Regions from separate parts of the Homo sapiens genome. Here all the other regions are linked to region 1. The links come from fine-mapping of genetic effects on gene expression. A gene starts in region 1. Each other region holds a variant in brackets. All regions are shown on one strand. Distances are from middle to middle. Region 1 holds the start of ZNF623 (zinc finger protein 623). Region 2 holds the start of BOP1 (BOP1 ribosomal biogenesis factor). Region 3 has its middle 23 kb from the start of ZNF623. Region 4 overlaps LOC105375799 (a long non-coding RNA gene).

What was found.
Region 2: its variant is fine-mapped to the expression of ZNF623 in gastroesophageal junction (GTEx, PIP 0.98).
Region 3: its variant is fine-mapped to the expression of ZNF623 in whole blood (INTERVAL, PIP 0.98).
Region 4: its variant is fine-mapped to the expression of ZNF623 in gastroesophageal junction (GTEx, PIP above 0.99). The same link has a PIP of 0.9 or more in monocytes after Pam3CSK4.

The regions. Positions count from the first base shown.
Region 1 is chr8:143,632,977-143,638,121 of GRCh38, forward strand. It overlaps ZNF623 (zinc finger protein 623), which reads left to right and starts at 3,043. Exons shown (of 2, transcript NM_001261843.2): 1 at 3,043-3,169. LOC105375798 (a long non-coding RNA gene) reads right to left here and starts at 928. Exons shown (of 3, transcript NR_188083.1): 1 at 474-928.
Region 2 is chr8:144,286,557-144,291,701 of GRCh38, forward strand. BOP1 (BOP1 ribosomal biogenesis factor) reads right to left here and starts at 4,882. Exons shown (of 16, transcript NM_015201.5): 1 at 4,716-4,882; 2 at 2,539-2,748. The coding sequence starts at 4,814. HSF1 (heat shock transcription factor 1) reads left to right here and starts at 5,048. Exons shown (of 13, transcript NM_005526.4): 1 at 5,048-5,145. RefSeq lists a silencer at 4,626-5,125. The variant T/C (reference allele first, on the strand shown) is at 2,677.
Region 3 is chr8:143,656,485-143,661,629 of GRCh38, forward strand. No RefSeq gene overlaps it. Among named protein-coding and RNA genes, the nearest start is that of ZNF623, 23 kb to the left of the region's middle. The variant T/C (reference allele first, on the strand shown) is at 2,524.
Region 4 is chr8:143,663,467-143,668,611 of GRCh38, forward strand. LOC105375799 (a long non-coding RNA gene) reads left to right here. Exons shown (of 4, transcript XR_928737.3): 1 at 1-902; 2 at 2,451-2,573; 3 at 4,379-4,451; 4 at 4,753-5,021. Among named protein-coding and RNA genes, the nearest start is that of ZNF707, 18 kb to the right of the region's middle. The variant C/T (reference allele first, on the strand shown) is at 2,011.

The sequences.
Region 1 (5,145 bases):
GACACAGTGGCCTTCCTCAGGGACATTTCCCAGACAGTTTTGTGCTTGCTCCCGTACCAAGACCACCCATGGCCTGTTTTCCTAAACCCCACATCCCAGATAGCTTGAAACTATGTTTTGGGATCTTTTATCAGAATTTCTGCTTTGTCTTCAGAATGGCTCCGTCCCCTCAAATCCCTATAAATTCCCTTTCTGGCTGAATGCAGTTTCTTTGGACAGCTTTCCTTTCTTGAGCTCTGGTTATGGCAACAGCGCCAGCCTCATCTTGCATGGCAGCCTCCCCTCGGGCCTTTTGCCTTCCAGCCACACTCCTTGGTTTTGGCATTGTACTTGCTCTAGGTCAAGGGCTTTGGAGGCAGATGGCTACATCTGAGGCCTCCTCCAGCATGTCCTGGCTGATACCTTAGGTGAGCCATTTGGTTTCCCTATTTCTGTTTCCTCATCTATAAAATGGAGATAATATTAGAAGTCACCTGGCAAGGCTGCTGTGGCTCGAGGGGGCTCCTAGGTGGGGAGCAGACTTTCACGGAGTGATGTTGGACCTGTGGAGGGGAAGACACAAGAGGCAGGAGTGGGGCTGTGATGCCATCAAGCACAGCGGCTACTGGTCCCCCACAGGGAGCTCTGCCACAGAAGTGGTCCTCAGGGCTGTCCTCGGTTGGACCAGGATGTCCAGGACTTTGCAATGTGGGCTGTCCCAGGGAAGGGTGTGACCCTGGCGAGTTGCAGCTGATGGCTGAAGGCCGCTTACCACACCCTGAACAACTGGGACACCCAGCCTGTCACTGGAGGGGTCTCCCGGGGCCTCTCATCGCAGCATCCACCACAGTTGCTGAGGTCCACATGGGCCAGGCACTGGGCTAGACATGGAACGAGACGGGGGTCCCTGACCTTACGGAGCTTCCTTTCTACTGGCAGGGACAATCAGTACCAAACAAGTAAACTCAAAGTATTAAGTGCCAGCCGGGCATGGTGGCTCAGGCCTGTAATCCCAGCACTTTGGAAGGCCGAGGCGGGTGGATCACGAGGTCAGGAGATCGAGAACATCCTGGCTAACATGGTGAAACCCTGTCTCCACTAAAAAACAAAAAATTAGCCGGGCGTGGTGGCGGGTGCCTGTAGTCCCAGCTACTCGGGAGGCTGAGGCAGGAGAATGGCATAAACCCGGGAGGCAGAGCTTGCAGTGAGCCGAGATCGCGCCACTGCACTCCAGCCTGGGTGACAGAGAGAGACTCTGTCTCAAAAAAAAAAAAAAAAAAAAAGTATTAAGTGCCAAGCTGCAGCCATGTGTTAGCTGTTGGTGGGGTTGAAGTGGCAGGCGTCAGGTGTACAAGGCAGATTTTGATCTGTGACAACCTGCTCAGGCGGTGTTCTCAAGCTCTTTGGGCCTGCGGACAGGGAGGCTGAAAGGTCTGTAAGCCCTGTGGGGAAGAGGCCTCAAGCCCTTCTCGCCTTAAGAGCTGGGTCCCATGGTAAGCTGGCAATAGGGTTGCAGCAGCCAAGGTCTCCGGGCCTGGATGAGAGGTGGGGTCGCTCAATGTAGGGCTTTCACACACACCCCTGGAACACAGAAGCCTTTCCAAGAGCCGGGGAGCCCCTGGAGAATCACAGCAGGAGTTCCACATGGATTCTGCCCTGGAATTCCTGTAGAAGGTCCTTGGATGAGGGCACGCGCCTAGCGTGTCCCCCTTGGCCACAGCTCCTTCTCCCACGTTGCTTCTCTTCCTTTATTCACCCTGGTACCTGGCCTTGGTACCTGGGCTGTCCTCCTCATCAAAGGGACAATTCAAAACTCTGCAGTTGATTTTAAGAAAGTAGGTGAATTTATTGGCTGGGAAAGACTTCATGTAGTTTTGCACTTTAGGTTACTTCTAATTCTTTGTTTGCTTCTGTCAAAATTTAAAAAGGACCTATTCAAGTGGTCAACTGACAGGTCATTAAGTACACTTGGTGATAAACTGCTGTTATGTTTTTTGCATATAAGTCAGAAAGAGCTAAAGAAATTGAGCGTCGGCTGGGAACAGCGGTTCACGCCTGTAATCCCAGCACTTTGGGAGGCCAAGGCGGGTGGATCACGAGGTCAGGAGATCAAGACCATCCTGGCCAACAAGGTGAAACTCTGTCTCTACTAAAAATACAAAAATTAGCTGTGCGTGGTGGCGCATGCCTGTAATCCCAGCTACTCCAGAGGCCGAGGCAGGAGAATCGCTTGAATCAGGGAGCCATAGGTTGCAGTGAGCAGAGATCACGCCACTGCATTCCAGCACTCCAGCCTGGTGACAGAGCGAGAGTCCATCTCAAAAAATAAAAATAAAAATAAATTGAGCGTCATTGCTAAAACAAAATTCCTCCCAATCCTATCTAACAATTTAGGTAAACAAGTTTCCTCAGTGCTAGCAGAAAAATGGAAAAAGAAAACCCAAAATACGAATATAATGTTTTTTTGGTGGGGGGGGGGGGCAGGGGAATGTAATTATTTCGATTATTTCGGACTGTGACTCATTCTAGCAATGAGTAATGTCTACCAAGAATCAATGAGCCGGCGCGGTGGCGCGCGCCTCTGGTCCCAGCACTTTGGGAGGCCGAGATGGGAGGACCACCTGAGCCCGGGAGGTCGGGGCTGCAGTGAGCCGAGATCGCGCCACTGCACTGCAGCCTGGGCGACAGAGCGAGACCCTGTCTTAAAAAAACCAAAACCCGAAAACCAAAAAACTCCACAGCGCGCCGCTTCCCCACTTCTCTGGGGCGCAGAGAGGTGAAGTTTGGCCCTCACGGTATTTACTTCCCCTGGATCCTCGCCTCCTGAGAAGCTGGTCTTGGGCTGCGGTCGGACCTCGCCGCGAGCTCCAGACCCGAGTTTCCGAGCCCGCGCTTCCCGGCCCGCAACCCTCCCAACCGCGTAGCAACGCCGCTCCTGCCGGACACCCCTGGCCCCTCCGGGGGTCTTAGTCCCCGGGCCCGGAAGTCCGCACCACTGAGAGGGGAGCCGATCCCTGGCGCTCCTAGAACGGCGCAGGAAGTTTCCCAGGCGGGGCCTCTCGCGACTTCCGGTCGCGGCGGGCTGGCGGCGGTGCAGGCTTTGTCGGCTGATCTGTGGGGCCCGCGCCGGCGGGGTCCAGTCAGCGGCTGCAGGGTCGGGCTCGCGCCGTCCTCTCCCCGCCCGCGCCGGGTGAGTGGCGCGTTCCGGACGGGGGCGGGCAACGCCTTAGCCGCAGCCCCGGCTGGCTCCGGAGCCCGGCCGCCTTGCCAGGGCACAGTCCGCCGAGAGGGCCGGGCGGGGTCCGCAGGCCGCTGCCCGCCCCGCTAGGGCGTCCAGGAGCGGGGCCTTGGCTAGTCAGTCTCCCGGACGCAGCCACGGCCGCCCCCGCGAGGCTGCGGCGTCTCTCCAGCGAGCCCGCCTCGGGCCCGAGCCTGGGGTCTTGTCCCTGAGGAGCGCCGTGTGGGTACCCCTGGTTCCCTCTCCTTCCCCCCGCCCTGAGCCCAGGCCGGAGAGCCGCGGGCTTGAGTGTCCGTGTCGCAGTCTTCAGGTCCGCCAGGCCTGCGTGAGGTTGATGCCGCAGACATGTTTTACGGTGTGGCAGGACTGGGTGTGGGCGTTCCCGCGGCTGTGCCTGAACCCTGCCTCCGCTCCCTGGGGCCTCGAGGCCTCTCGGTGCTGGAGGAGATGCAGCGCCAGCATCTTCTGTGCTGTTGGGGATAGGGGTGGGGAGGGAAACATGATGAGCAGAATTAGAATTAAGTACAAGACTTGGACCTGGAGAATTCCCAGATGGGGAGAGGTGGTGTGGCTACGCTGTCCTGCTTTTTCTTGAAGGTACCCTTTTCCCTTCGCGTCTTTAAGAATCCCAGTGGCGTTCTCTGTGCTTCTGTCAAGGCTGTCTTGCTCCCTTCACACACAGGCTACGTCATGGTCCAGGGACTCTCAGGGTCTGGGCAGCGCCTGGATGCTGGCCTCAGACTCATAGGTAGTTGGTGTGAAGCAGCTCAGGGAGCTGCCGAGCTTGTCTTCGCTGCCTCAGGGTCATGGAAGATGACCCAGGAGAGGACACAGGGGGCTCGTCGTTGTCCTTGGGCAGAGCCCTGAGCAGCATGCCGGTAGCAGAAGCCAAATGGCCTGGGTGGGGCGGGGGCAGTTGACAGCTGGCTCCAGTTCTCTGACCTTACGCTTCTTACCTCCCTGAACTTCCGGGGCATCGTGGGGAGCACTAGGAACAGAAGCGCTCCCTGCCTAGCCTGTGGCGCCCAGTAGGCCCCTTGGTGTGGCGCGGGGCAAGGAGGTCCAGATGTTAGTGGAGCTCTAGTCCACGTCTCACTCGGTTGCCCTCTGGTTCTGCTTTTCCTGTTTCCTGAGGGTGAAGCTTGGTGTATCCTGTTAATTTCTTCAGGCTGTAAGCAACACACAGTGACTCTGGCTGGGAGCTTGAGGCTGGAATTTCCCCTTACCAGTGTGGGTGCAAGAGCTGGGGGCTTCTAATGCCAGATGGGACACCCCTAGACACCCCAGAGCTGCTGTGGCTGCTGATGATACACAACATCTGCTGTTGAGACAATTTCAAGTGATATTTATTTATTTATTTATTTATTTATTTTTGAGACGGAGTCTTGCTCTGTCGCCCAGGCTGGAGTGCAGTGGCATGATCTCGGCTCACTGCACCCCCTGCCTCCCGGATTCAAGTGATTCTTCTGCCTTAGCCTCCTGAGTTGCTGGGACTACAGGCACACGGCACCACGTCCGGCTAATTTTTGTATTTTTAGTAGAGACGAGGTTTCACCATATTGGTCAGGCTGGTCTTGAACTCCTGACCTTGTGATCTGCCCACCTCGGCTTCCCAAACTGCTGGGATTACAGGCGTGAGCCACCGCGCCTGGCCTCAGGTGATGTTTTATCCAGCAAATTCTGTGTTACAACAGGAGATGGGTCCATGCTAGTCAGTTTGTTGTGTGGAGCCACAAGTCAGGTGGCTTCCTTTTTTTTGCATTTCATGTCAGTTTCTTTAAATGAAAATGTATTGATTTAATTTTACTTAAATTCATACAAGAAAAAGTTAAGCAAAAACTGAAGATAGCTATTTCCTTTTTGAGATAACTGTTTCTTCAAAGCAAGATATTTGCAATTTTAAAAACTTTCTCTAGAGGCGGGCAGAT
Region 2 (5,145 bases), 650 kb after region 1:
CAGCTAAAGCACAGGACACGCGGGCAGATGCACGGGCGCCATGGCAGGGCAGGGCCTCGGCCCCTCAGCTAAAGCACAGGACACGCGGGCAGGTGCATGAGCGCCACAACAGGGCAGGGCCTCAGGCAGGGACTTGGGCAGCCAGCAGCGTGGGGAACTCTGAGGACCGCCCCACCAGCCCGGCCGGCCTTGCCACCTCAGGCCCTGCTGGATGACGGAGCACACAGACCACAGACAGCGGTACTTTGGAAAACACCCTGCATGGGGCAGCCAGTTACGCGGTCACAGAAACCCGAGCAGGGCAATGGGCAGGACAAGCACACACTCAGCAGTGCAGAGGACCTGGTGCTCCAGGGGCCAGGAGACAAGCAGCGAGAAGAGAAGATGGCGCCTCCCTAGACTCCGCAGACACCTCTAGTACCTTTCAAGTACTTGGATATGTTATTATGCGAAAACATTGTTTTGGTTTTTGAGGCAGAGCCTCACTCTGTCACCCAGACTGGAGTGCAGTGGTGAGATCTCGGCTCACTGCAACCTCCGCCTCCCAGGTTCAAGTGATTCTAACGCCTCAGCCTCCCGAGTAGCTGGGATTACAGGCACGCGCCACCACGCCCAGCTAATTTTTATATTTTTAGTAGAGACAGGGTTTCACCATGTTAGCCAGGCTGGTCTTGAACTCCTGAGCTCAGGTGATCCATCCACCTTAGCCTCCCAAAGTGCTGGGATTACAGGCGTGAGCCACCACGCCCGCTGAAAGAATTTAATAAAAAAATCATTAACATGTAAATGTGTAAATCCTTAATTTAAAAAGGGACAGAAGACCCAGAAAGATGTACACCAGACCACTAACTGTGCTCACGGGTTAGGTGTGAGGGCCCTGAGTGGGAGCTTCCACCCTACTGAATGGTGCTGCTACAATATCTACATTATTTTCCAGGATGTTTTATCTCATAATTTTTTTTTGAAACAGGGTCTTGCTTGTCACCCAGGCTGGAGTGCAGTGGCTCTATCATAGCTCACTGTGACCTGGATTCCTGGGCTCAGGAGATCCTCCCACTTTGGCCTCTCGAGCTGCTGGGATTACAGGTATGAGCCACTGTGCCTGGCCCAGTATTGTATCATTTTAAAAACTCAAGAAGGGGTAACGTAGTTGTCCATAATCTTACAAACCACTGCCAACACAGCACATCATTTTTTCTCTGTGTATGTTAGTGGTATAATTAAAGCCTGAATTAAGTGTGATTTTAAATCTTTTCTTCCCAGCAAACAAGCCAACCCAACACAGCTAGCACACAATGAACAAGCCATGGTTCCTTGGCTTCTATCACGGGGACCTCTGCCAAGGCCGTAACTTCCAGAACACCGAAACTACTGGGAGAGTAAATCCTTACAAACGATTTCCAGAATGTTTAGAGTAACAAATGCTGGGCTGGGCGCGGTGGCTCACACCTGTAATCCCAGCACTTTGGGAGGCCAAGGCAGGCAGATCACTTGAGGTCAGGAGTTCGAGACCAGCCTGGCCAACATGGTGAAACCCCGTCACTACTAAACATACAAAAAAAAATTAGCCGAGCCTGGTAGTGGGCACCTGTAATCCCAGCTACTCAGGAGGCTGAGACAGGAGAATTGTTTGAACCCAGGAGGTGGAAGATGCAGTGAGCCAAGATCGCCCCACTGCACTCCAGCCTGGGCAACAGAGCAAGACTCTGTCTTAGAAAAAAAAAAAAAAAATAGGCCGGGCGTGGTGGCTCACCTGAGGTCAGGAAATCGAGACCAGCCTGGCCAACACGGCAAAACCCTGTCTCTACTAAAAGTACAAAAATTAGCCGGGCGTGATGGCATGTACCTGTAATCCCAGCTACTAGAGAGGCTGAGGCAGGAGAATTACTTGAACCCAGGGGATGGAGGTTGCAGTGAGCCAAGATCACACCACTGCACTCCAGCCTGGGCGACAGAGTGAGACTCTGTCTCAAAAAAATAAAAAATAAAAAAAAATAACAAATGCTGTGTTTTAGTTAAATTATGCTTTTCTCCTGTTGTTCTCAATAAGAGTAGGGTGCATCCTCCCCCACCATCGCTGCAACAGGTACAATGTTAAACCCTCTACCCGTCGGCTGCTCAGGCCCCTGAAGCCCTGTGGGGTCAGGCCCAGCTGGGTTCCGTTGGGGCCCCCATGCCGCCTGCTTGAGCCCTGCCATGCTGCTCAGCTCCCTCCTCAGCTGGGTCCTGCCACTGGATTCCAAGCAGTAAAATCCCCACCTCAAGGAAACCCAACCTGTTGCCAGGAGGGTTGCCCGAGCATCGTCTGACGGGGAAGGGCCTAGGCATGTGGATTTTCAGAGTTCCTGGGAACGGCACGCAACTGGGGATGGAAACCAGCGTCCTAGAGCCCAAGCGTGCCCCAGGTGCAGTGAAGGAGGGACGCCGGCCTTGGGGTTCTGAGGGACGGTGGAGAAGGCAGTACAGTGGCAGTCTCAGAAAGCCCAAGGCCACCTGCACATGGGGGACAGCCCTCGAGGGGGCTCCTCGCTCACCCACCTGCACCTGCTCCTCAGTGGTCTTTTTAATCCCACTGTGGCCCTCGTCATCAAGGGCTCCGTCCTCTCCCTCCTCGTCGCCTTCGTCATCATCCTCACTGCTGTCACTGCCGGAATCTTCCAGGCCTGAGAACACACT[T/C]TCCTCGCTGTCGGAGACGCCAGAATCGCTGCCGGTGCTGTGGCTGAGAGGAGAGGTGCAGAGGAGGGGGGGCTGCAAGGAAACACTGGGTTGGTGACAACTGCCCCTCCAGGCATGGGGCACTGAACACTGCAGGGAGAGCTGCCTCTCGCCCCTCCAGCCACCCACCAGCAGCTCCATGTGGCCTCCAGGACCACACCCCTCCAGTCACAAACTTCCACCAAAAGCATCCACCCAACCTGAGCCTTCCTCATCTTCTACCTCCACTGACAAGACAGCCTCTTGCCTTTGCCATCGACATTTTAATTCCTAGCACCTCACAGGGAAGGGGCTTTTCAAGGACAACCTCCTCCTCTTGGAGCTCAGCTCTCATCGCAAAACTAACACTGCTCTCTACCACCCACTGACACTCCGGAGGCCCTGTGGGGTCAGGCTGGGCTGGACTCCACTGGGTCCCTCAGACAGCCTGCCTGAGCCCTCTCCACACCTCACCCTGGCATCCAAGGCCCCAGAGCCAAGAGGTCACTAGAAAAGGGGCTGGGGGCTGGAAGAGAAATGGGTCCCCAAAGGGCTTTTACCACCTGAAGCAGACGCCTCCTCATTTAACCAGATTGGGACCAACGATTGATCAGTAAATTGAAAGGATTGGCTGAAGAGTCACAGGAATGATAGAGACTCTAACCGCAACCACGCACCAACCCACCCACTCCTCTCTCTGAGCAGGACCACAGCTGCCTCTGAGCAGAGCCCTGCTGGCTGCGTGACACCGGCACACACAGTGTTCGGGTCCTTCACTGGCCTTAAAGGGTGGAACAAGAACTTAGACTCTTAGGAAGCAGTTGAAGGCCAGGCACAGTGGCTCACTCCTGTAATCCCAACACTTTGGGAGGCTGAGGCGGGTGGATCACCTGAGGTCAGGAGTTCAAGACCAGCCTGGCCAACATGGTGAAACCATCTCTACTAAAAATACAAAAATTAGCTGGTGGTGGCGGGCACCTCTAATCCCAGCTACTCAGGAGGCTGAGTTAGCCAGGAGGTGGAAGCTGCAGTGAGCCAAGACTGCACCACTGCACTCTAGCCTGGGCAACAGAGCCAGGCTCTGTCTCAAAAAAAAAAAAAAGAAAAAAGAAAGAAAAGGAAAAGAAAAGAAAAAGGAAGCAGTTGAATGCAGAATTCTAGATTTTACTGTTTTCCTAATAGTTTACAAGTCTCACTTAAGGTACGACCTGCATGTATTAGCTATTGCATACCGAGTGTTCACACAATGCCTCTCTCACACAGAGTCATGATGTGTCTTGGTATTCAGTCGGCTACACAATCACAATAACTAGTGGAAATGGCATCCGTGGCCTGGGCGCAAACAACTGGCTCCTGAGGACCGTTTAGTCCAAGGGTGGAAGTCGCAGAACCTGGCGCCTAGAGTGGCCTGCGGGCCATTCAGCCCATGGGAGCCAGGATGAGTTGAATTCGCTTCACAAAGCAATGGGGCAGTTTCAACAACCCAGCGCGGCCGCGGCCGAGGGGGCTGTGAGGGGCTGGCTGTCCATCCCCTCCACCACCCAATTTGATGATCCCCACAACCAAGACAGGGCTGAGCTAGCAGAGAGCAACAGTGAGTTCTAATACAGCAAATGCAGCAGACACTGGGTTCTATTCAGGTTTTCTTATTCTCATGTCTATCCCATGAGCATAAAAACGCAATTAACTAGCGTATACGTAGGTTAAGCATTTACTGGGAGCGCAAGCCGAGCCCTTTTATTGGCAGGATGCACAAATGGAACGGCTGGAGAGGCTGCTGCAAGGGGCGCCCCGTCCCCACTCCCCGCTCCCCCGTTTCTTTGCTTCCCGGACGCCGTCCTTTACCCCGCAGTCCGCTCTGCCTGAGACCCCCCGATAGAGGAGCTGCACCCACGCCCAAGACCGATTCACTGGGCGCGGGCGCCCAGGTGACAGAAGCCGGGCCCACCCGCCCCAGCGCGGCCACGTGCCCGCCGGGCCCTCTAGGGACGCGCCCCGCCGCCCCGCATCGCCACAGTCACCTCCGGCTCGGGCTCAGGCTCCAGTTCGGGCTCAGACCGCCGCTTCTCCGGCCGCACGCTCGGCGCCGCCGTGCGCCCCGCACCCCGCGAACCCGCCATGCCCCACCGCGCGCCGGCCGCCACCCGCACAGCCGCTTCCGACAGCGACCGGGCCGCGTGCGCAGGAGGACGCGCCCCGCCCAGCCCGGCCCCGATTGGCGGGTGGAGGGAAGGGGGTGGGACCAACACGCGCAGGCGCGCGGCTGGGCCGGGGACCAGGGCGGGGTCGGGGCCTGCGTGCTCGCGCCGGGGGTGACGCGGGAGGGCGGCAGCGGCGGCGGCGGGAGCGCGCCCGTTGCAAGATGGCGGCGGCCATGCTGGGCCCCGGGGCTGTGTGTGCGCAGCGGGCGGCGGCGCGGCCCGGAAGGCTGGCGCGGCGACGGCGTTAGCC
Region 3 (5,145 bases), 24 kb after region 1:
GGTAAGAGTATGTCCTTGTATTGATATCAGGATACTGTTACTCCCAAAGAATTGCGAATTATTCTATCCTCTTCTGTTTTCTGAAGTTGTTTATGTAATATTGATACTATTATTTCTTCCTTAAATGTTTTCTTCCCTTCTTTCCTTCCTTCCCTCCCTCTCTCTTTCTCTCTCTCTTTTTTCTTTTCTTTTCTTTCCTTTTTTTTTTCTGAGACCCAGTCTCACTCCGTCACCCAGGCTGGAGTGCAGTGGCATGGTCTCGGCTCACTGCAACCTCTGTCTCCCAGGTTTAAGCGATTCTCCCACCTCAGCATCCCGAGTAGCTGGAACTACAGGTGCGTGCCACCATGCCCAGGTGTTTGTATTTTTAGTAGAGACAGGGTTTCACCATGTTGCACAGGCTGGTCTTGAACTCCTGGCCTCGTGATCTGCCCACCTTGACCTCCCAAAATGTTGGGATTACAGGAGTGAGCTACTGTGCCCAGCCATAAATTCAATTTTTTTAAACAGCTGTAACAGTTCAGGTTTTTCTATTTCTTCTTGTGCCAAGTTTGGTAACTTTTATCTCTCAAAGAATTATTCATTTCATGTAAAACAGTGAATTATTGGCATAAAGTTCAAAACATTCCACTACATTTTATTCGACATTCTATTTTAATTATATTTAAAAGGATCTCCTCTGGCAGGGCGCAGTGGCTCACTCTGTCGCCCGAGCTGGAGCGCAGTGGTGAGATCTCAGCTCGCTGCAACCTCTGATTCCTGGGTTCAAGCAATTCTCCTGCCTCAGCCTCCTGAGTAGCTGGGATTACAGGCACCCACCATTATGCCAAACTAATTTTTTCTATTTTTAGTAGAGACGGGTGTTTCACCATGTTGACCAGGCTGGTCTCAAACCCTTGACTTCATGATTCGCCTGCCTCGGCCTCCCAAAGTGCTGGGATTACAGGCATGAGCCACCGCGCCCAGCCAGAGTAGATTAATTCATCTGAGAGCTTCACCCTCATGATCCAATCACGTCTTAGACGCCACCTCTCAGTACTGCCATATTGGGGATGAAATTTCTACATGAGTTTTGGAGGGGCAGATACTCAGCATTCTGTCCAAAACTCATGTCCTTCTCAAACAGATTTGTTGCAATCCCATAGTCCCCAGATTTTATTCCAGCACTGAATCAAAAGTCCAGAGTCCAGAGTCTCATCTGTGAGCCTGTGAAATCAAATAAGTTATCTACTTCCGAGATACAATGATGGTGACAGGCAAAAGGCAGACATTCCCACTCCATCAGGGAGGGGTAAGCAATAAGAAAGGGTTAGCAGGTCCCAAGCAAGTCCAAAACCCTGCAGGGAAGGCATTAAATCCTGAAGTTGGAGAATCATCTCTTGACTCCATGTGCCACTTCCTGGACACCCCAGGGCGAGGGTTGGGTCCCCAAGGCCTCAGGCACCCCCACTCTATGGCTTTGCTCTACCTCCTATGGGTTAGAGTCTGGTGCCTGAAGCTTTTCCAGGCAAGCATGCATGCTGCCAGTGACTCCACGGTTCTTGGGTCCCAGTGGTGGTCCCACTCCCATGGCTCGCTAGACATTACCCTGGTGGGGACTCTCCAGCACCTCCAACTCATTTCCACTCAGCATTGCTTTAGTGGGGGTTCTCTGTAGTGCCTCCACCCCTGCTACAAGTCTCTGCCTGGCCCCTCAGCTTTCAGTGGTATCCTGTGCAATCTGGATGGAGGCTGCCAAGCCTTCACAGCTCTGGCTTTCCCTAAGCCAGCAGAACTAGCACCACATGGATGCCACCAAGGTTTAGGGCTTGTGTGTTCTGGAGTGAGGCATTCACATCTGGGGCTACTTGAACAACGGCTGTGGTGCCCAGAGCAGAGTCCTAAGGTGGCCCTGGGTGAGCTTGTGGAGGGCTCCTGGGGTCTGTCCCCCGAAAACATTCTGCCTTCCTAGGCCTCTGAGCCTCTGATGGGAGAGGCAGCCTCGATAATCTGAAATGCCTGCTGGGACTTAGTTTCATTGTCTTGGGAGAATTGCACCTGGCTCCCTTCTACCCAAGCTAATTTCTTTCACAAACTTCACTGGGCTATACCCTTGGTTTCCTCTGCTGAACATACTTTTACTCTACATGGCCAGGCTGAGTTTTCCAAATCTTTCCACTCTGCTTCCTTTTAATTTATAAATTCTGTTTTTAAACTATTCCTTTACTCTCAAAGCTCAGCATAAGAGGCCAAAAGTAACCAGCAGCTCCTTCTTTTTTTTTTTTTTTTTTTTTTTAAGATGAAGTTTTGCTGTTGTTGCCTAGGCTGGAGTTCAATGGTGTGATCTCGGCTCACCGCAGGCTCTGCCTCCCGGGTTCAAGCGATTCTCCTGCCTCAGCCTCCCGAGTAGCTGGGATTACAGGCATGTGCCGCCACACCCAGCTTATTTTGTATTTTTAGTAGAGATGGGGTTTCTCCACATTGGCCAGGCTGGTCTCGAACTCCCGACCTCAGGTGATCCGCCTGCCTTGGCCTCCCAAAGTG[T/C]TGGGATTACAGGTGTGAGCCACCACGCCCGGCCACCAGCAGCTCCTCTTTTTTTCTTCCAGATATCCTAGTTCATCACTCTTAAGTTTGACCTTCCTCAAAGCCCGAGGCATGGACACAATTCAGCGAAGCTCGTTGCCAATTTATATTAAGGATGACCTTTACTTCACTGTCCAACACTTTGTGCCTCCGTTCCATCTGAAACTTCATCAGAATGGCCTTTATAGTTCATACTTCTATCTGCGTTCTGGTTGTGACCACTTAATGGATCTCTAAAGAGGTCCAGTCTTTCCCTAGTCTTGTCTTCTAAGCCCTCACCAGAATCTAGGCCTTTTCTAGCCTGCTCCCCCAAATTCTTGCAGCTTCTGCCCATTACTCAGTTTCAAAGCTGCTTCTACATTTTTGGTTATTTTTTATTAGCAGCACCTCACTCTCAGTACCAATTTTCTGTCTTAGTCCATTTTCTGTTGCCTACAACAGAATCCCTGCAACTGGATTATTTATGTTTGTCTGACAGAATCTCACTCTGTTACCCAGGCTAGAGGGTAATGATGCCACAATAGCTCACTGCAACCTCAAACCTCTGGGCTCAAGTGATCTTCCTGCCTCAGCCTCCCGAGTAGCTGGGACTACAGGTGTGCGACACCATACCTGGCCTGAAACTGGGTAATTTATAAAAGAAAAGATTTTATTTCTTACAGCTATGGAGGCAGAGAAGTCCAAGGTCAAGGGGCCGCATCTGGTGAGAGTCTTCTTGCTAGTGGGGACTCTGCAAAGTCCAGAGATGGTGCGGGACATCAATGGTGAGGCGCTGAGCATACTTACGGGATAGCTCAGGTCTCTTCCTCTTCTTACAAAGCCTTCAGATCCCCTCCCTGGTAACCCATTGATCTATTAATCCACAAATGAGAGCAGAGCCCTGGTGATTCAGTCACCCCCTTAAAGGCCTTACCTCTCAGTACTGCCACATTGGAGACTGGAGATTAAATTTCTTTCCTTTTTTTTTGAGATGGAGTTTCACTCTTGTTGCCCAGGCTGGAGTGCAATGACGTGGTCTTGGCTCACTGCAGCCTCCGCCTCCCAGTTCAAGTGAGTCTCCTGCCTCAGCCTCCCGAGTAGCTGGGATTACAGGTGCCCACCACAATGCACGGCTAATTTTTTGTATTTTTAATAGAGATGGGGTTTCAACATGACGGCCAGGCTGGTCTCAAACTCCTGACCTCAGGTGATCTGCCCCCCTCAGCCTCCCAAAGTGCTGGGATGACATGGACATGAGCCACCATGCCTGGCTCTTTTTTTTTTTCCAAAAAAAAAAAAAAAAGGGTCTCGTTATGTTGCCCAGGCGGGTCTGGAACTCCTAGGCTCAAGCAATCCTCCCGCCTTGGCCTCCTCCCAGACTACTGGGATTACAGGTGTGAGCCACCATGCTCGGCCAAGTTCTTTCAACTTTTATCTTTGGAAAATATTTTGATTTCGCCTTCATTTTTGAAGGATGTTGCTGGATATATAATATGTAATTTACTTTGCCTCTGAGTGCTTGTAAGATTTTCTCTTTATCACTGGCTTGTAGCTGTTTGATTATGATGTGCCTTGGTGTGGCTTTCTTTGTTTTTATCCTTCTTGGGGGTTATTGATCTTGGATTTGTAGCTCTATTATTTTCGTTTTATTTGGAATCTTTTCCATCACAGTTTCTATTTTTTTTTTTTTTGAGACGGAGTTTCACTCTTGTTGCCCAGGCTGGAGTGCAATGGCACGATCTCGGTTCACCGCAACCTTTGCCTCCCAGGTTCAAGCAATTCTCCTGCCTCAGCCTCCCGAGTAGCTGGGATTACAGGCGCCTGCCACCACACCCAGCTAATTTTTTTGTATTTTTAGTAGAGACAGGGTCTTGCCATGTTGGCCAGGCTGGTCTTGAACTCCTGACCTCGGGTGATCCACCCGCCTCGGCCTCCCAAAGTGCTGGGATGACAGGCGTGAGCCACCGCACCCAGCCCACAGTTTCTTACAATGTTTTTCTGCCACCCTCCCACACCAAGAGGAATTCTAATTTTATTTATTTATTTTTGTTTTCATTATTATTTTTTGAGACAGAGTCTCACTCTGTTGCCCATGCTATAGTGTAGTCTCATGATCTCTGCTCACTGCAACCTCCACTTTCCAGATACAAGCAATTCTCCTGTCTCAGCCTCCCGAATAACTGGGACTACAGGTGTCCACCACTACGCCCGGCTAATTTTTGTATTTTTAGTAGAGATGGGGTTTCACCATGTTGGCCAGGCTGGTCTCAAACTTCTGACCTCAGGTGATCCACGCAACTCGGCCTCCCCAAGTGCTGGGATGACAGGCGTGAGCCATCCCTCCTAGCCAGGAATTGCAATTTTAGGTGAAATTTGCTTCCTGTTGCCCTCGGGGCACTGTGGCCCTGTTTGCTGGTGCCTTCCTGCTCCTTCACTCGCCTTCGGGGCGCTGTGGCCCTGTTTGCTGGTGCCTTCCTGCTCCTTCACTCGCCTTCGGGGCGCTGTGGCCCTGTTTGCTGGTGCCTTCCTGCTCCTTCTTCACTTGCCTTCGGGGCACTGTGGGTCTGTTTGCTAGTGCCTTCCTGCCTCTTCGCTTGCCTTCGG
Region 4 (5,145 bases), 30 kb after region 1:
AAGGCCCACCACTCTGGCTCATCACACTTTGAGCACCTCCCAGGCCTGCAAGCTATTTGGGGATTGTCTGCTGTCAGCTCCCCGTGGCTTGTGGCCTGGCCCCATGGTGTGTGCAGCTTAACGTTCATCCAAACACTCATGGCAGCACTGGGGACTTCCTCTTCATGGGTCCCAGTTTCTTTCTCGTACTGGACCCCATAAATGCGAGCCTTCTGTACCTCCCCAGAGTCCAACCTCTGCCTCCTCAACTTAGTGAGTTGATACCATGCCTGTGTTTCCCCTTCATATGCTGTATTCTAGAAAATGCCACCAGGCAGAGAGCTGGCATCATGGGAGGTGCCCCCCCCATCTCCATCCTCCTGGGCAGGTCACAGCACTGCACCCTCCAACATCTAACAGCAGCTGTTGCATGGATTTTGTCCAGCTTTCTAGTTTAGGGCAGGAGGGCAAGTCCAATACTTGTTAATCATGGCTGGAAGGGGAGGTCACTGTACCATTTTTTATGTAACCGGTAAATATAAATTGGTAAGGAGTTGACAATCCTATTAATTTGGAGTCAGCTACCTGGTGGCTATCAGTCTCATTCTCTCTCCTGCCCACCTTTCCTGCCTGTGTTCCTGGCGTTCTTTTTGAAAGCAGGCTGCAAGCAGTCACATCGTCACCCTGGGGCATTTCCCTGTGCTTTGTGCTGCCTGGAAGAGCTCATAGCCAAGGAAGGGTGAAGACGGCGCGCTGCGGTGTGCGGCTTCTAGGCTGTGGAGCTCTAGTGTTGCCTTTTGGGTTCAGGGACCCACTGGGCCACTGTGAGGTGGGCTGGAGCTGCATTTCACCGACTGCCTTGCTGCAGGAGCCCTGCTCTGACTGGAGGGCCACAGAGCACACCGGGCCCCCCCGTAAGCCAGGTACGAGACTACCCGTCTCCTGCAGCAGGGCTCGGGGACCTCCCCATGGAGCCACAGGCATGGGCTTGGGGAGAGGCCCAGTGGAGAATAGAGGGTGGCACGGGGACCTGGGCCATCCTTGTGCCTTCTGGACCTGCCCAAGCCCAATCTTGGACTCCACTTCCATCTCCCAGTAAACTCCTGACGGCCCCTTGGATGTGCGACTGGTAGCTCCGACAGCACCCAGTCACGATGGGCAGCGCCAGTCTCATAAACACCGTGGCCTCCACGGTCAGGGCCCGAACACTTGCCCGCACCACCTACCAGCTGGTGGAGTCCCCTGAACATGACGGGGCCCTGCGCCGGTGGCCTTGGGCCTGGGCTGCACATCCTGCACTGAGGCTCGTCATGGGCGCCACTCGTGTCTTTGCCACACATGTGAAGCCTGTGGGAACTTCACGGCCACATGACCCACGTGGCAGGACTGCCTGTCACCCAGCCTGGGCCTGCCTCAGCCCCTTCCCTTGCTCCAGACCCCACTCAGAGCCGACGGCTTTCCCTCTCCCCCGCCAAGGGCAGAACATATTGCCTTCAAGCCCAAAGAGGCATCGGGCCTGCCCCAGCACCCTACAGGCCACCGCACCCTGAGAACATTGCTCATGGGGCAGGTCTCTGAAGTGTACGGAGTCTGCCTCCTGCCCTCCACAGCGCCCGTGTTTTTCTGAGGCCATCAGCGCACCTGCTATCTCTGCATGAGTCCAGTGCCCATTAAGGCATCCACTGAATGGGCCAACCTTTGCTCGTGGACCATCCAGTGGGTCAGGCCTTTGGGCCATGTTGGGACGAGGCACCCCACTCGGTTCTGGAGCGACCGTACCTGTGTGCCGCTGTTGGCCCCGCGTGGGCAGGAACTGCTCCGATTCCCCTTCCAAACAGGTTTCGGAAATGATGTGTTTATCAGACCAGTAGCCAAAAACCACATGCACGTGGCCACATCAGTCTCTTCTGGAAAGACCATGTGGATGGCCACAAGCGTGCCTCAGCTACTACTGTTTAAGCCTGTGGTAGTCCACTGCTGTCCACCACGGTCATGCAGCTTCCGCAGGGGTTGGGTTTCCAGATTGTAAGG[C/T]GGGTGGGGACAGGCAGATGGGGACAAGGGGGACAAGAACAAGAGGGACAGGGACAAGGGAGTGTATGGGGACAAGGGGAATGGGGATGAGGGGGATGGAACAAGGCGGGTGGGGACAAGAGGGACAGGGATAAGGGGGATGGGGACAAGGAGGGCAGGGTAAAGGGGGATGTGAATTAAGGGGACAGGAACAAGGTGGATAAGGGGACGGGGACAAGAAGGATGAGGACAAGGGGGATGGGGATGAGAGGGATGGGGATAAGGTGGGCGGGGATGAGGGGGACAGAAACAAGGGGGATGGGGATGAGGTGGGTGGGGACAAGGGACAGGAAGAAGGTGGGTGGGGACGAGGGGCACAGGGACTAGGGGCACTGGGACGAGGAGCCTGGGGACGAGGGGGATGGGAGCAAGGCGAGTGCGGATCTTTTACGTCTTCACAGGTGGCCTTAACGCCTGCCATTCTCCACAGAGGGTAGAGTTGCAGGAGCTTCCACTTTGATTTTCCCACTACAAGACTCACTCTGTTGATCAAGGAACCAGTTGAGGTTTTGCCCAGTTGCCAGGTGTGTCCAAAGTGATTTTGTTCCTTTCACAGGACATTCTGCCTCCCTGACAGCGCGGGGGATGCTTCCATGGCCTCCACAAGTTATAAAATACTCCAACACCAGTAGTATGTTAGTTACACCAGGGTGCCATTAAAAATACTGCAGAGTAGGTTACTTAACAACAGAAATTAATTATTCTCTCACAGTTCCGGAAGCCAGAAGAGACTAAAGTGTCCCAGGTTGGGTTTTGCCGGAGGCTCCTCTCCTTGGCTTGCCGATGGCCGCCTTCTTGCTGTGTCCTTGTGTGGCCTCCCTCCCTCCTCCGTGTGCACACACATCCCATGCTGTATCCCTGCGTGGCCTCCCTCCCTCCGTGTGCACACACATCCCATCCTGTGTCCCTGCGTGCCCCTCCCTCCTCTGTGTGCACACACATCCCATGCTGTGTCCATGCGTGGCCTCCCTCTCTCCGTGTGCACACACATCCCATCCTGTGTCCCTGCGTGCCCCTCCCTCCTCTGTGTGCACACACATCCCATCCTGTGTCCCTGCGTGCCCCTCCCTCCTCCGTGTGCACACACATCCCATGCTGTATCCCTGCGTGCCCCTCCCTCCTCTGTGTGCACACACATCCCATCCTGTGTCCCCGCGTGGCCTCCCTCCTCTGTGTGCACACACATCCCATGCTGTGTCCATGCGTGGCCTCCCTCCCTCCGTGTGCACACACATCCCATCCTGTGTCCCTGCGTGCCCCTCCCTCCTCTGTGTGCACACACATCCCATGCTGTGTCCATGCGTGGCCTCCCTCCCTCCGTGTGCACACACATCCCATCCTGTGTCCCCGTGAGGCCTTCCTTCCCTCCATGTGCACACATATCCCATCCTGTGTCCCTACGTGGCCCTCCCTCCTCCGTGTGCATGTACATCCCACGCTGTGTCCATGCGTGGCCCTCCCTCCTTCCTCCATGTGCACATACATCCCATGCTGTGTCCCCTCGAGGCCCTACCTCCCTCCATGTGCACACACATCCCATGCTGTGTCCCCGCAAGGCCCTCCCTCCCTCTGTGCAAACACACATCCCATGTCTCTCTGTGCATCCAAATTTCCTCCTCTTAGAAGGACCCTAGTCAGATCAGGTTAGGGCCCACCCAAAGGCCCCATTTTAACTTTACTACCTCTTTAGAGGCCCTATCTCCAAATCCAATCACATTCTCAGGTACCGGGCATTAGGTTCAGCATTTCAATTTGGGGGGAAACAAATCAACCCATAACAGGTGGATTTCCCAAAGCCTGCATTATTCAATTGTAATCAAACACACATTATTATGTATTTTCCCTGTAAAATAAGAGACAAGATCCAGGCTTGGTGGCTCAGGTCTATAATCCTGGCACTTTGGAAGGCTGAGGCAGGCAGATGCCCAGGAGTTTGACACCAGCCTGGCCAACATGGCAAAATCTCGTGTCCACAAAAAATACAAAAATTAGCCAGACGTGGCGGCATGCACCTGTTGTCTCAGCTACTCAAGCAGCTGAGGTGGGAGGATTTCTTGAGCCCAGGAGGATGAGGTTGCAGTGAGCCAAGATCGCACCACTGCTCTCCAGCCTGAATGACAGAGTGAGACCCTGTCAAAAAAAAAAAAAAGGCAAGGTTTTCTTCCAAGTGGGAAGAAAGATGGTGGATAGGATTTTTACGGAGTGTTGAAAGAGCTACTTGGAGAATCAGAAAGAAGATTAGTTGTTGGGAGGCACAGAGTGAGTACTGAGAAAACCAAGGGCCCAACTGAGGCTTGAAACTGCCAATTCTCCATTTACTGTCTTTCAGCTTCAAATACATACTTCATCGCCTGCTTGGTGAAAATGGAGCTGGGCCCTAAATTGTTTCTCCTTTAAAGCAGGTATGACGTTAAGCTTTGTAAGTAGAGGGCACTGGAGGGACCCTGCAGGAGGAAAGTGCTTCTCTTCCTGTTCTGCACTTTCTTCTGTTTTCTTCTTGTTCCTGCCATGTGGCTGCCAGCACACTCAGTGTTGCTCACCCCCAGCCAACTTCACTTGCAATGCCATGGGTGGATCCCCGTGAGTCTTGCAGATGCTCCACTGGTCAGCATCCAGCCTCAGCCTGCCCCAGAGAGGTGTTTCCTGCTTGCCAGTCCTGGCCAGGCTCCCTACCTGCCACCTTCAACCCCTCTACACCTGCAGGAGTGATTGCCCATTGACTGTGGACCAGCTCTGGCTACGGGAAAACCAGAGAACCTCTCCATCATCCATACTGCACCAAACAGCATCTCTGCAACCACACCTTTTCCAAGATTTGAGCCCCAGCCTTGGGGAGGAGGCCATCTTTCACATTTTCTCCTTCCTTGGGAACTCTCTGTCAGCCCAGAGTATTCTTTTGCATTATCTTTAGCCCTGTACAGATAATTCCATTATAGTAAATAATCCTTTATATTAAACGTTCCTTGCCCAAATGACTGTGCAGTTTCTGTCTGCTGATTGATTGCGCCCTGATGCAGAAAGGTAAAGTAACTTGACATGTTGCACAGCTGGCCCACACAATCACACAGCTGAGACTGCACAAGGACAGCTTCCTCT